Linked DNA regions of Homo sapiens: region 2 is linked to region 1. The links come from fine-mapping of genetic effects on gene expression. A gene starts in region 1. The other region holds a variant in brackets. All regions are shown on one strand. Distances are between the middles of the regions. Region 1 holds the start of POLR2L (RNA polymerase II, I and III subunit L). Region 2 overlaps CHID1 (chitinase domain containing 1).

What was found. PIP is the estimated chance that this variant, and not a neighbour inherited with it, causes the effect.
Region 2: its variant is the best candidate, but not a certain one, in a credible set for the expression of POLR2L in whole blood (TOPMed, PIP 0.72).

The regions. Positions count from the first base shown.
Region 1 is chr11:840,455-845,454 of GRCh38, forward strand. POLR2L (RNA polymerase II, I and III subunit L) reads right to left here and starts at 2,075. Exons shown (of 2, transcript NM_021128.5): 1 at 1,960-2,075; 2 at 1-26. The coding sequence starts at 2,054. It overlaps TSPAN4 (tetraspanin 4), which reads left to right and starts at 2,398. Exons shown (of 9, transcript NM_003271.5): 1 at 2,398-2,461. RefSeq lists enhancers at 334-1,078, 1,079-1,824, 1,825-2,568 and silencers at 1,837-2,466, 2,577-2,666, 2,687-2,916, 2,902-3,070.
Region 2 is chr11:886,464-891,967 of GRCh38, forward strand. All of the region lies in intron 8 of CHID1 (chitinase domain containing 1), which reads right to left. Among named protein-coding and RNA genes, the nearest start is that of CHID1, 22 kb to the right of the region's middle. RefSeq lists enhancers at 3,267-3,786, 4,826-5,343, 5,344-5,504. The variant T/G (reference allele first, on the strand shown) is at 2,277.

The DNA.
Region 1 (5,000 bases):
TCAGGCCCAGGGCATCCAGCGCATCCCTGTGTCGAGGGGAGGAGCAGAGGCCAACTGAGTTCTCTACGGTCTGCAAAGGCCTGGAGCCCACATCCAACCTGCCTCTCACTGCCTGCTGGCCTCACCCCCCCCGCCACCGGCAAGGCGAACAGATTCACCCGGCTCAGAAGCTGAGATCTAGCAGTATGATCCTGGCTGGAGTAACCTGGAAATGCCCAGAACCCTGGGTGGAGCGTGAGGAGCCTCCTCTCCCACCTACTCTGGCTGTACGTGTGTGTGTATAACGTATGTAAGAAATGTAAATGAAATGAAAACGAAGTAATTGCGGGGAGCTTAGAAAACCAAGACCACCAAGGTGCTGATGTGCAGCCACCTCATCCAGCACTGGCCACGGCAGGGTAGCTCTCCAGGGGCCTGCCCTTAGCTGGTTCACCCCCACCCCAGCCAGAGCAAGCCCTGCTCTGCCGCTGTGGGGTCTTTCCTCACCTCTGCTTCCTTCCATCAGAGAGAGACTGCTTCTCCACGGAGCCACCTCTCCCACTTCCCAAGCCAATTAGAAGCTTTCATTTCCCTGGGACCTAGCTCCAGTCACCCTCAAGACCTCCAGAAAACTCCCACACCGATGGCTCCAATGTGCAGAGACACAGAAGCTTGGGAAAGGGGAGGCCACATGGGAGGCCCCTGCCGTTCCTATCCGGGGAAAGGGTCTGGACAGGCCGCCAGCCACTCAGTCTAGCAGCCCACTCGCTTTCCTCGTTTGTCCAGCAAGCTGCACCAAGTGCCGATGGCAGGCTGGCGCACACAAGCCCAGGGCTTCACATGTGACGAAGACTCAGTGGGCGAGGGTCAGACTCCAGCGGGGGCACCAAGACTCAGGCACCGTGGTGACAGCAGCACCAAGGGACAAGCACAGGAGAAAGACGCCTCCCCTACAAAGCCTGATGAGGGTGGTCAGCAAGTCTACCCTGCATTTCTTTTTCTGTGTGTGTGTGTGCGTGAGACGGAGTTTCACTCTCTCTTCCAGGCTGGAGTGCAGTGGCGTGATCTTGGCTCACTGCAACCTCCACCTGCCTCCCAGACTCAAGCGATTTTCTCGTCTCAGCCTCCCAAGTAGCTGGGACCACAGGTGTGCACCGCCATGTCCGGCGAATTAAAAAGATAGAGCCAGGCGCGGTGGCTCACGCCTGTAACCTCAGCACTTTGGGAGGTCGAGGCGGGTGGATCACCTGAGGTCAGGAGTTCCAGACCAGCCTGGCCAACATGGCGAAATCCCATCTCTACTGAAAATACAAAAATTAGCCGGGCGTGGTGGCACACGCCTGTAGTCCCAGCTACTCGGGAGGCTGAGACAGGAGAATTGCTGGAGCCCAGGAGGCGGGGGTTGCAGTGAGCCGAGATCGCGCCACTGCACTCCAACCTGGGCGACGGAGCGAGACTCCGTCTCAAAAAAGAAAAATAAAATAAAATAAATTTCTGGAGATCAGGGTCTCCCCAGGTTGTCCAGGCTGGTCTCGACCTCCTGGGCTCAAGCAAGCCTCTCGCCTCGGCCTCCCAAACTGCTGGGATTACAGATGTCAGCCGCCGCGCCCGCCCGTCCTGCAGCGAGGTTTGCAGGACATGGGGTGGGCCTGGGGGCAGAGATGGGAATAGGGCGGAGGCCAAGGGCTTTACTGCGGGTGACAAGACGCCTGCGACCCGCCAGGCCACCTAGAATCCCCAGGACACCACTGGTTTGAAGCCCAACTCCGTTCTCTTCCCCAGACTTCAGGGGATAAGGTTCTCCCGAAAGCAGATCACAGAGCGGGGCTGGAGAAGCCGGGCCTGAAGCTGCTCATGGGGCGCTGGCCTCAGGCAGCGCTGCGCCTCCCGCCCCGGCGCGCACCCCAGGGCGGACTCAGCCCCCAGCCCCGGCCCGCGCCCCACGGCGGACTCAGCCCCTAGCCCCGGCCCGCGCCTCACCCCTCGGTGTACTCGGCCTGCAGCAGCCCCAGGTAAGCCTCCCACTTGTTGCCGACGATCTTGCCACAAGTGAAGCAGCGTACAGGGATGATCATGGCGGCGGCGCGTCCCAGACTGCCCGGCCCGGCCCGGCCGCACGCGAAGAACCCCCCCAGGCCCCGCCCCGGGCGCGTCCACTGTTGCGGGAGAATCGGCTCCGCTCGTTCTCCGCTGTTCCGGCCGTCCCTCCACCGGCCCCGCCACCGCTGGCCGCAGTTTCCGCCGCGATAGGGGCTTCCCGTGCGTCCCGGGGCTCCTGGGCCTGTGCGTCCCGGGGCTCCCGGGCCCGCGCGGCCGCGGCAGCAGCAGACCGCACACCCCCGCCCACCGTCTTGGTGCATCCCGGCGCTACGGCGTCTGAGCAGGGCCGTAAAGCTGCGGCGGCGGTTCGCGTTTCTCGTGTCCGCTTGACTGACAGCTGCGCGGCGGGAGCGGGCGGCGCGAGCGGGAGGCGGCGGCGCAGGTACTGCGCCTGGGGGTTGTGGGGGCGTGCGGCCAGGGTCCCGTGGCCGGAGGTGTCCGACCGGGAGCGGCTGGAGCCGGACGCGAGCGGGGCGCGCGAGTTCGAGCCCAGAGCCGACACGCAGCAACAAGTGGGGTCCGGCGCGGGGGCTCGGGGAGAGGGCGGGCGGGGGCCGGGGCGGGTCTTCCTGCCGCCCCTCCTGGCCGCGCCGAGTAGTGGGTTCCTCCGCCTCGGCCTCTGCCCGCGGGGTGTCCGGGGCTCTCGGCGCTGAGTTCGGGGGTCCCATTCTGGACGCGGCCCAGCCCCTAGGGGCGCCGCCCTGGCCTCAGCTGCGCAATTACAGCCCCCGCCGGCAGCTCCCCGCCCCGGGCTCCTGTCCGCGTTCTTTCCGCTCTTTCCCGGGAATGGGGTCGGGGTGCGCCCTCCCGGGTCCCGGCTCTGCTGGCTGCTCGCCGTCCCGAGCTCCCGACGCTCAGACGCGCCTCTGAGCACGGGGAGAGGGGACCCGGGAGGGAGGTCGGGGAGGGAGTCGTGGAAGAGGTGCTTTTTGAGCTGAACCTGGAAGACCCCGGCACAGGGGATCCCTGGGCAGACTCCCGGAGGCTGCACTGGCAGGACCCCCTGAAGGCCTCAGCTCTGGCTTGCCCTGGAGCTCAGGGCCTACGGACGACGAGGGACGAGGAGCCCGTGTCTCTCGGATGGAGTGCGGGGGGGCTGGCACCAGCACCCTTCTTGCTGTGCCCCTGGGGTGGGGGTGAGGAAATGGGGGGTCGGTGTGCAGTGAGAGGCAAAGAAGGCTCCTTGGAGGTGCGAGGTGGGCTGTGGGGGTGGGTGGGCCGCAAAGCGGCACCCATGGGGGGCTCTGGGCTGGTTTGCCGGCCTGGGGCTTCTGGCTGGGGTGGGACCTGTGTTGGGTTCCAGGCATCAGCTGCCGCTTTCTCAGGGCAATGCTGCGTCTGCCTTAGTTGCAGAGGAGGAGGACGAAGGGTTTTCTGGGTCCGGAGTGGTGCTAGCCAGATCCACTGCACGCTTGGGGTTTCCGCTCCCACCCTGGCCAGGGCCCTGGGCAGCTTCCCCAGTGGCATTTGCCATACCCCACCCAGCCACGTGCGGAGCCACGAGCCGAGGCCACTTCCCTTCCCTGACCCCCTCCCCCCAGGATGAGTGGACGCACATCCTGCTCTGGGCAGAAGGGCAGGACAGGGGCCCTGAGTAACGGTGGCCTGGGGTCAGAGCCAGGTTCAGCTGCGAGGCTGCTGGTGGCTGTGGAGGTGAGGGGGGCAGGGGGGTCCCGGATGTTAGCAGGGTGGGCCCTGGGGAGTGGGTGGGGGCCTGGAGGCTTCTTGGAGGAGGGTCCAGGGCCTGTCCCGCCCCTGTTCCTGCCTGCAGGAGTTGTTTACTCAGAGCAAGGGGTGGTGGGGAGTGAGCTGCTCTCCAAATCCTGGCTTGGGCCAAGCTGACATTCTTGGAATTCCGAGTGTGTGCGCTTCCTATCCCTCCATTTCCCAGCAGAGCCCCTGAGATCTGGAGACTGCCCCAGCCTCAGGCTCTGTGCATCTCCCCCGAGCCCCCACCACATATGTGCGGAGGCCCCTGGGGGCCCAGGCCTGTCCTCAGTCCCGACTGGGCTCTACCTGAGGACCCTGGGGAGCCTGGGCCTGGCCCTCCTCAGGCAAGCGGGGGTGGGAGGGAGCCTGGTGGCGGGGCAGGGCACTGTGCCCGCCAGCAGGGGCGGGTGGGGGCCCCTCTCTCCTGGGTGTGGAGTGTTGGCGCAGACTCGGCCTGGCTTCTGGGGGGGGGGGTCTGGGATGGGGCCAGGAGGGTGAGGCGCTGGTTTTATAGAAGGGGGCGTTGTGGAGCCTCCTGTGGTCAGGGCAGGGCACAGGGAGCAGAGGGTGGGCTCCCCCGGCTGCTTCCTGCTAGAGGAGGGATCACTTCAGGGCAAAGGACCAGGGGAAACCCATGATTGAAGTTTTAGCTGCTGACCCCTCCCACCCTGGGTGTTGCCCTGGAAACAGGCCAGCCACGGGACCAGGAGGGCTGGGAGGGGGAGCACGGGCTGAGCCCTGGCTGGGATTCAGCTGAACTTGCACTCTGGTCTGGGATCCCAGCCCACGTTTCCCTGTCTGTAAAGCTCAGGTGGGATCAGAAACTGCCCGCCCGGAGGGCTGCATCCCTCCTGCCGCTGAGGCTGGGCATGACCTTGACTGGGAGAGGGTGTTGAAGGTGTCTGTCCCCAGCCTCGCCCCCACACCTGTGCTCTCTGGCCCTGTCCATGCCTGGGACAGATGTGTGCTCACCCCCAGGGTGCTGTGGGATGGGGTGGGTGCACACGGCGCCACGAGCACACGTGCCCGACACCTCAGCGGTGCACACAGCCAAGGCCACTGCCCACCGTACCCACGCCGTCCGTGTCCTCTCTACGGTCCTGGGAGACTGGCGTTGTGAGCAGTGGGGCCTGTAGATGGGGCCGGGTCCTCTCTACGGTCCTGGGAGACCGGCGCTGTGAGCGGTGGGGCCTGTAGATGGGGCCGAGACT
Region 2 (5,504 bases), 46 kb after region 1:
GTCTTGCTGTGGACAGGGTGCTTGTGTCCCCACAAATGGTTATGTTGAAGCCCTAACCACTGATGCGATGGTTTCTGGAGACGGGGCCTTTAGGAGGTGATTAGAGCTAGACGAGGCCATGATGACGCGCCCCATGGTGGAGTTAGTGTCCCTATGAGAAGAGACACCACAGCTCTCTGCCATGCGAGGACACAGCAAAAAGGTGCCGACTGCACCAGGAAGAGGCCTTGCCGGAAGGTGGGCTTCGGGCTTGCCAGCGCCTCTCCGAGTCGGTCCCAGGTGGCACCTTGGCCCCTCCCACACAGAGCCCCCCAGCTCACAGCCCCACATCGCTCAGGTCCTGGCGGCAGATGCCAGGCAGCGTTGGCTGCGTCGGTTCCATCCCAGCCTGGCTGCTCCTGAGCCATGATCTCCCCGTGGCTTTCATTTGTGGTTCTCTCATGAATAACATGGTTGAGCATCTCCTGGCCTGCCCATCAGCTCCATGCACGCATCCACTGTGGCCTCTCGTGGTTCAGAGTCCAGGTCTCCTGCCCGCTGTTCTCTGGGGTCTTTGTTGCTTTCTTTCTTTTCTTCTCTTCTGTTTTTGAGACAGGGTCTTGCTCTGTTGCCCAGGCTGGAGTGCAGTGGCACAATCTCGGCTCACTACAGCCTCAAGACCTCTTGAGCTCAAGCTCCTCCTCTCAGCCTCCCGAGTAGCTGGGACCACAGGTGCCACCATGTCCAGCTAACTTTTAAATTTTTTGTAAAGATGAGGTCTCACTATGTTGCCCAGGCTGGTCTCAAACTCCTGGGCTCAAGCGATCCTCCTGCCTCAGCCTCCCCAAATGCTGGCATTACAGGCGCGTACCTCCACACGCAGCCCGTCGTTGCTTTCCCACCACCGTGTTCCCATTTTCTCTCCTCTAGCTCTCTCAGGTGGTCATGTGCTCTTGGTCAGTGGTGTGGGCAGCATCGTCCACCTGGCGAGAGGCTGGTCTTCTCGCTCCTTTGTGGTGTCTTCTGATGCACCCACATCCTGGTCCGAGTTGTCTGTGTCTGTCACTCCTTCCTCTCACGTGCTCCACGGTTCTGCTTCTGACTTGGGCCTTTGCTGCCCCTAGGACCATGGCCAGCAGGACTGCCTGTCCCTTTGGCTCCTACTTTGCCAATCTCATGGCAGCCCTGTCAGCCGCAGCTTCTACTCTGCAGGGGCCTGTCCCACAGTCCAACCCCTCCCCTGTGCCCATGATGCCCTTCCAAGCACCCCGTCCCGCTTCACACGCTGCTATCAGACATGTGGGGTCCTGCCGTGAGCCGGGCTCGTGTGCCTCCCCCACATCCACGGTGCTGCAACGCCCCTGTCCCTCTCGTGGGCGCCATGCCCTCCACCACCTCATGGCCTTGGCCACACCAGGCACTCCTGGCAGAGCTGGCTTCACTCCACAAGGCCTTGGTAGGTGAGGCCACGTGTCCAGGATCTGGTTCCCACCAGCTACAGAATGTGGCACAGAAACCACGAATGCTCCCCATGCGTCCACCAGAAATGCAGCTCCACGACATCCCCAAGCAGGAAGGGGCAGTCCTGCCAGGGGACATGGCTCCACACCACGCCCCTCAGTGCAGCATGCTGACATGTGACATGCCTGTGGCACAGCTTGCATTTTCCCTTCGGGGCTCACGCAGCCACCCACTGACCCAACAACTTTGCTACAGCTGGGCACCAACCACGGCCGCAGGCTAAGAACGGTCCTCACGCTTTCAAGGGTGGTAACACAACACGAGGGAACAAAGCAGGCCCCATTCAGAGGCGGAAGCAGCTCACGGTGGTGATCAGTGGGAGAAAGAGGGGAGGGCACCAGTCCTGTGCCCCCGGTCCTGCCAACCCCCACCTGGTGCTGGCCCTGAGGACCACCCGGGAATGTGGACCTCCTCCTACTTGCAAGAAACACTGCAAAAGGGCCACTGCCAGGTGTCCTCCCCAGCCTGTGTCCTTCACCCAGACACATGCGAGAGCCGGCAGCAGAGCCATCTGTCTCCGTGCCCCGTGGCACCTGGACAAGAGGGGATCACCACGGCTGAGCAATGAGGTAACAGCTTGTCACGGATTAGACGCAGCGTGACTTCCGATGAACAGGAATTACTGCTCACACCGAAAACACCATGTTCTGCATTCATTTCTGAGGAACGAAAGCCCCGGGAGGAAGGAAAGAAGGAAAAGGAGCTCATCACAGCCAGCTGCCGACCCTCCCATCGCCATGTCGTGGGTGGGCCCCATGCAGGCAGCGGCATGCAAG[T/G]TGAGTGCCCACTCGGCCTCGACTGGACCCCGGGCCCACACCAACGCCAGTGCCTGCCCACTCGGCCTCGACTGGACCCCGGGCCCACACCAATGCCAGTGCCTGCCCACTCGGCCTCGACTGGACTCCGGGCCCACACCAACGCCAGTGCCTGCCCACTTGGCCTCGATTGGACCCCGGGGCCCACAGCAACGCCAGTGCCCCTCCCCCTCCAGACGGCTGGACGCGCTCTGCTCTTCCCGGGCTGCCCCTGCTCAGGCTTTGTGCTGAGACAGGCCGCTCTGTGCCCCAGGGCCCTGGGGGTGCACTGCCCAGCTGGCTGCCTCACACTGAACAATCCCAGGCTGGGGCCTGACCAGGTCCCTCCAGCCACGTGGACCCCACAGCTGCCAGAGGCCGGGGCGGCTGCGGCCTCCAGAACAGCGTCCTCCCAGATCCGAGGGGAGACGGTGACACGAGTGAGCCCACAGTCTCCTGCCATGTACCCACACCGTCCCTCCAGCACAGCACGACTCTCACGTTCTACCTGCGAACTCCCTGAAACCCCCACCCACCCACCTTGGTCCTGACACTGGGCCCACGTGGCAGATGCCCCCTCTTCCCTCGGCCGACCAGCTGCCATCTCTGGGTGACATCTGCATCACTGTAGTTGACGCCAGGCAAAAGGAACGTCGGCTCCACGTCAACCCCTCCCGCCGCCATCTGCTGGGGTGGGCCCATCTCTTCCCTGCTCCTGCACTCCAGCTACCAGACCCTGTGGGCTTAGCCTCCCTGTCTCCCTAGACTGTCATCTTCCAGCCACCCAGCAGGGGAGAGCCATAGTCTCTGACCTCCATTCAGCTGACCTCCCTCCAGGCTGAATGTGAGGAAGGCGTGGGCTTGGCCTATGGTCCCTAGTCCCTGCCAGCCACACCGCCTGGCCCTATAGTTGCCACCTGCAGAGCCAGGCCCCACAGCAGCCCTGAGGGAATGCCAGTCCCCAACCCTAACAGAGATGGTGGCATCACTGTCAGGCCCCATAGCAGTCCAAGGGAATACCTTTCCCCAACCCTAACAGATGCTGGCATCACTGTCCCTGCAATCTCCCATGCTCAGGGCATCTGCCCCCAGCAGCCAGCGGCCACAGCTGTTCCTCCACCCACAGCTCCCCTCCCCCTCTGCCCACCTGTCAGAGATTTCTGAACCCGCTCCCCATGGCCTTGGGTCGCCTGGCCCCTGTCTGCTGCTGCTGGCATCCTCGCCCCCTCACGATGGCTGCTCTACTGTTCTCAGCCTGCAGGCCTAGCCCGCTCCCCATGGCCTTGGGTCCCCTGGCCCCTGTCTGCTGCTGCTGGCGTCCTCGCCCCCTCACGATGGCTGCTCTACTGTTCCTCAGCCTGCAGGCCTAGCCCGCTCCCTGACTGGCCGGTTAGCACCCTTTGGCCCTTTGGGGCCTGACCTCAGCCTGGACCTCGGCCCGTCCACACCGCACGGGGTGCCTACGGTCCCCCACAGAGGCCTCAACACACACTGCCAGCACGCGGCCTGCCCCATCCCCTGAGGCTGCGGGCAAGAGGCAGGTGGGCGACGGGAGCAGGGGCCTCTGTGCAAACGTGCTTGCTGGGGATACGGTGACGGCGCCCCCATGCGTCACCTTTCTCTGACTGCTGAGTTGGGCTCCACATATAGCGATGGCCGGCCCTGAACCACGGGGCTTGCAGGAGCTGGCCAGGGTCGCGGCCCCGCCCACCTCAGAGTGGACCACTGACAACAAGGCCGGCAACGGCGCCAGCAGGGCCCAGGAAGGAAACCAGCCCTTCCTGGGTTCCTGAGGTCAGCTCCCTGGACCCAAGGGGGTCCCAGTAGCTAACAATGCCCAGAAAACACAAGGGGCCAACTAGAGAGTGACCCAAGGGTTCTGCTCCCATGTTAAGGATGGCACCACCACATGGGCACCTGGGGACAGCCTGTTGGTCCCACTGGCCTGTGGGGTTTACGCTGTGGCTTTGCCCCTGGGTCTCCTCCATTGCTGAGACTGACTGTGGGAGCAGGGCTGGAGGTCCGCAGAGTGCTCAGTTCCAGGACCAGACACCCTGGGGTCTGTGGCAGCTGAGTTAGGGCTGCCTCTGTCTGCTGACGAAGGACACGATAAAATTGGCATTTGGCGACTGGGGTGCCCCTCCCCGCAGCACGCAGACCTCTCTCCAGGGGCCATTGTTCCACAGACAGTGCCCCTGGAGAGAGCGAGCCTGTGTGCTGGCAGCGCTGCTCTTGGGAGGTGAGTGACAAGCACAATTACGCGCTGCTGCAAAAGCACCAGGGACAGGGATTTACGAGGCTCCTCTGCAGTGGCTGCTCTTCCCTCAGAGTGGGATGGGGGAAGGATAAACAGATGACAAAACAGCCCTCCTCACCTCTGGGGCTGTAGCCAGAGTCTCGGGAGAACCCACGGGAGCCTCAGCACCTTCACCGGCCCCGCCGACTGGGAGGGCACAGCCCTGTGCTCCAGTGGAGCGGGCGCACAACAGCAGTGCCCAGCCCTCCCCCGAGCTGGGTCCCACTTCCCCGGGGACCCCCACCGTGGGCCTCGGCCCCGCCCCCAGCCTCGTCACCGTGCCCGTAGCCCTGGCGTGCATCCCACCCTACAGCTGCAACCCCCACCAGCGCCATGCAAATGGAGTTGTGAGCTTTGGTTGCTGTGGGGTGAGGGGCAGGGACCTGGCCCAGCTCCAACTGCCCACTTCCTGCCTAGGGCCAGAAGCTCAGGCAGAGGCTGCCACCAGCAGAAGACAGGCACCTGGTCCTCTGCCCCAGCCTCAAGAACTGCCCTGGGCTCCTGAGCTGGTCCCCACCGATGGCTGCTTCTGCAGCTCCCCTAAGCACAAAGGGCAACCTGGGAGCCCCATGAAATCAGTGCCTCACAGAGGTGGCCATGCCCATGGCCTCTGGACAAGGAGTGTCTGCTGCCCCGAGGAATCTTCACCCAGCCCCAGGCCTGTAGTCCTCCCAACCACCTGAGACAGGTGCTGTCAGCTCTGGAAGGACGTGTCCTCACAGCCAGCCCCTGCCAGCCCCCTTCAAACCCTGGGAACACAGGTCAGACATTAGTGCCTTACATCGGAAAAGGCTGGCCACGGTGGCTTGGGAGGCCGAGGTGGGATGATCGCTTGAGCCCAGGAGTTCAAGACCAGCCTGGGCAACATGGCAAAACCTCATTTCCAAAAAAAAAAAAAAAAAAAAAACACAAAT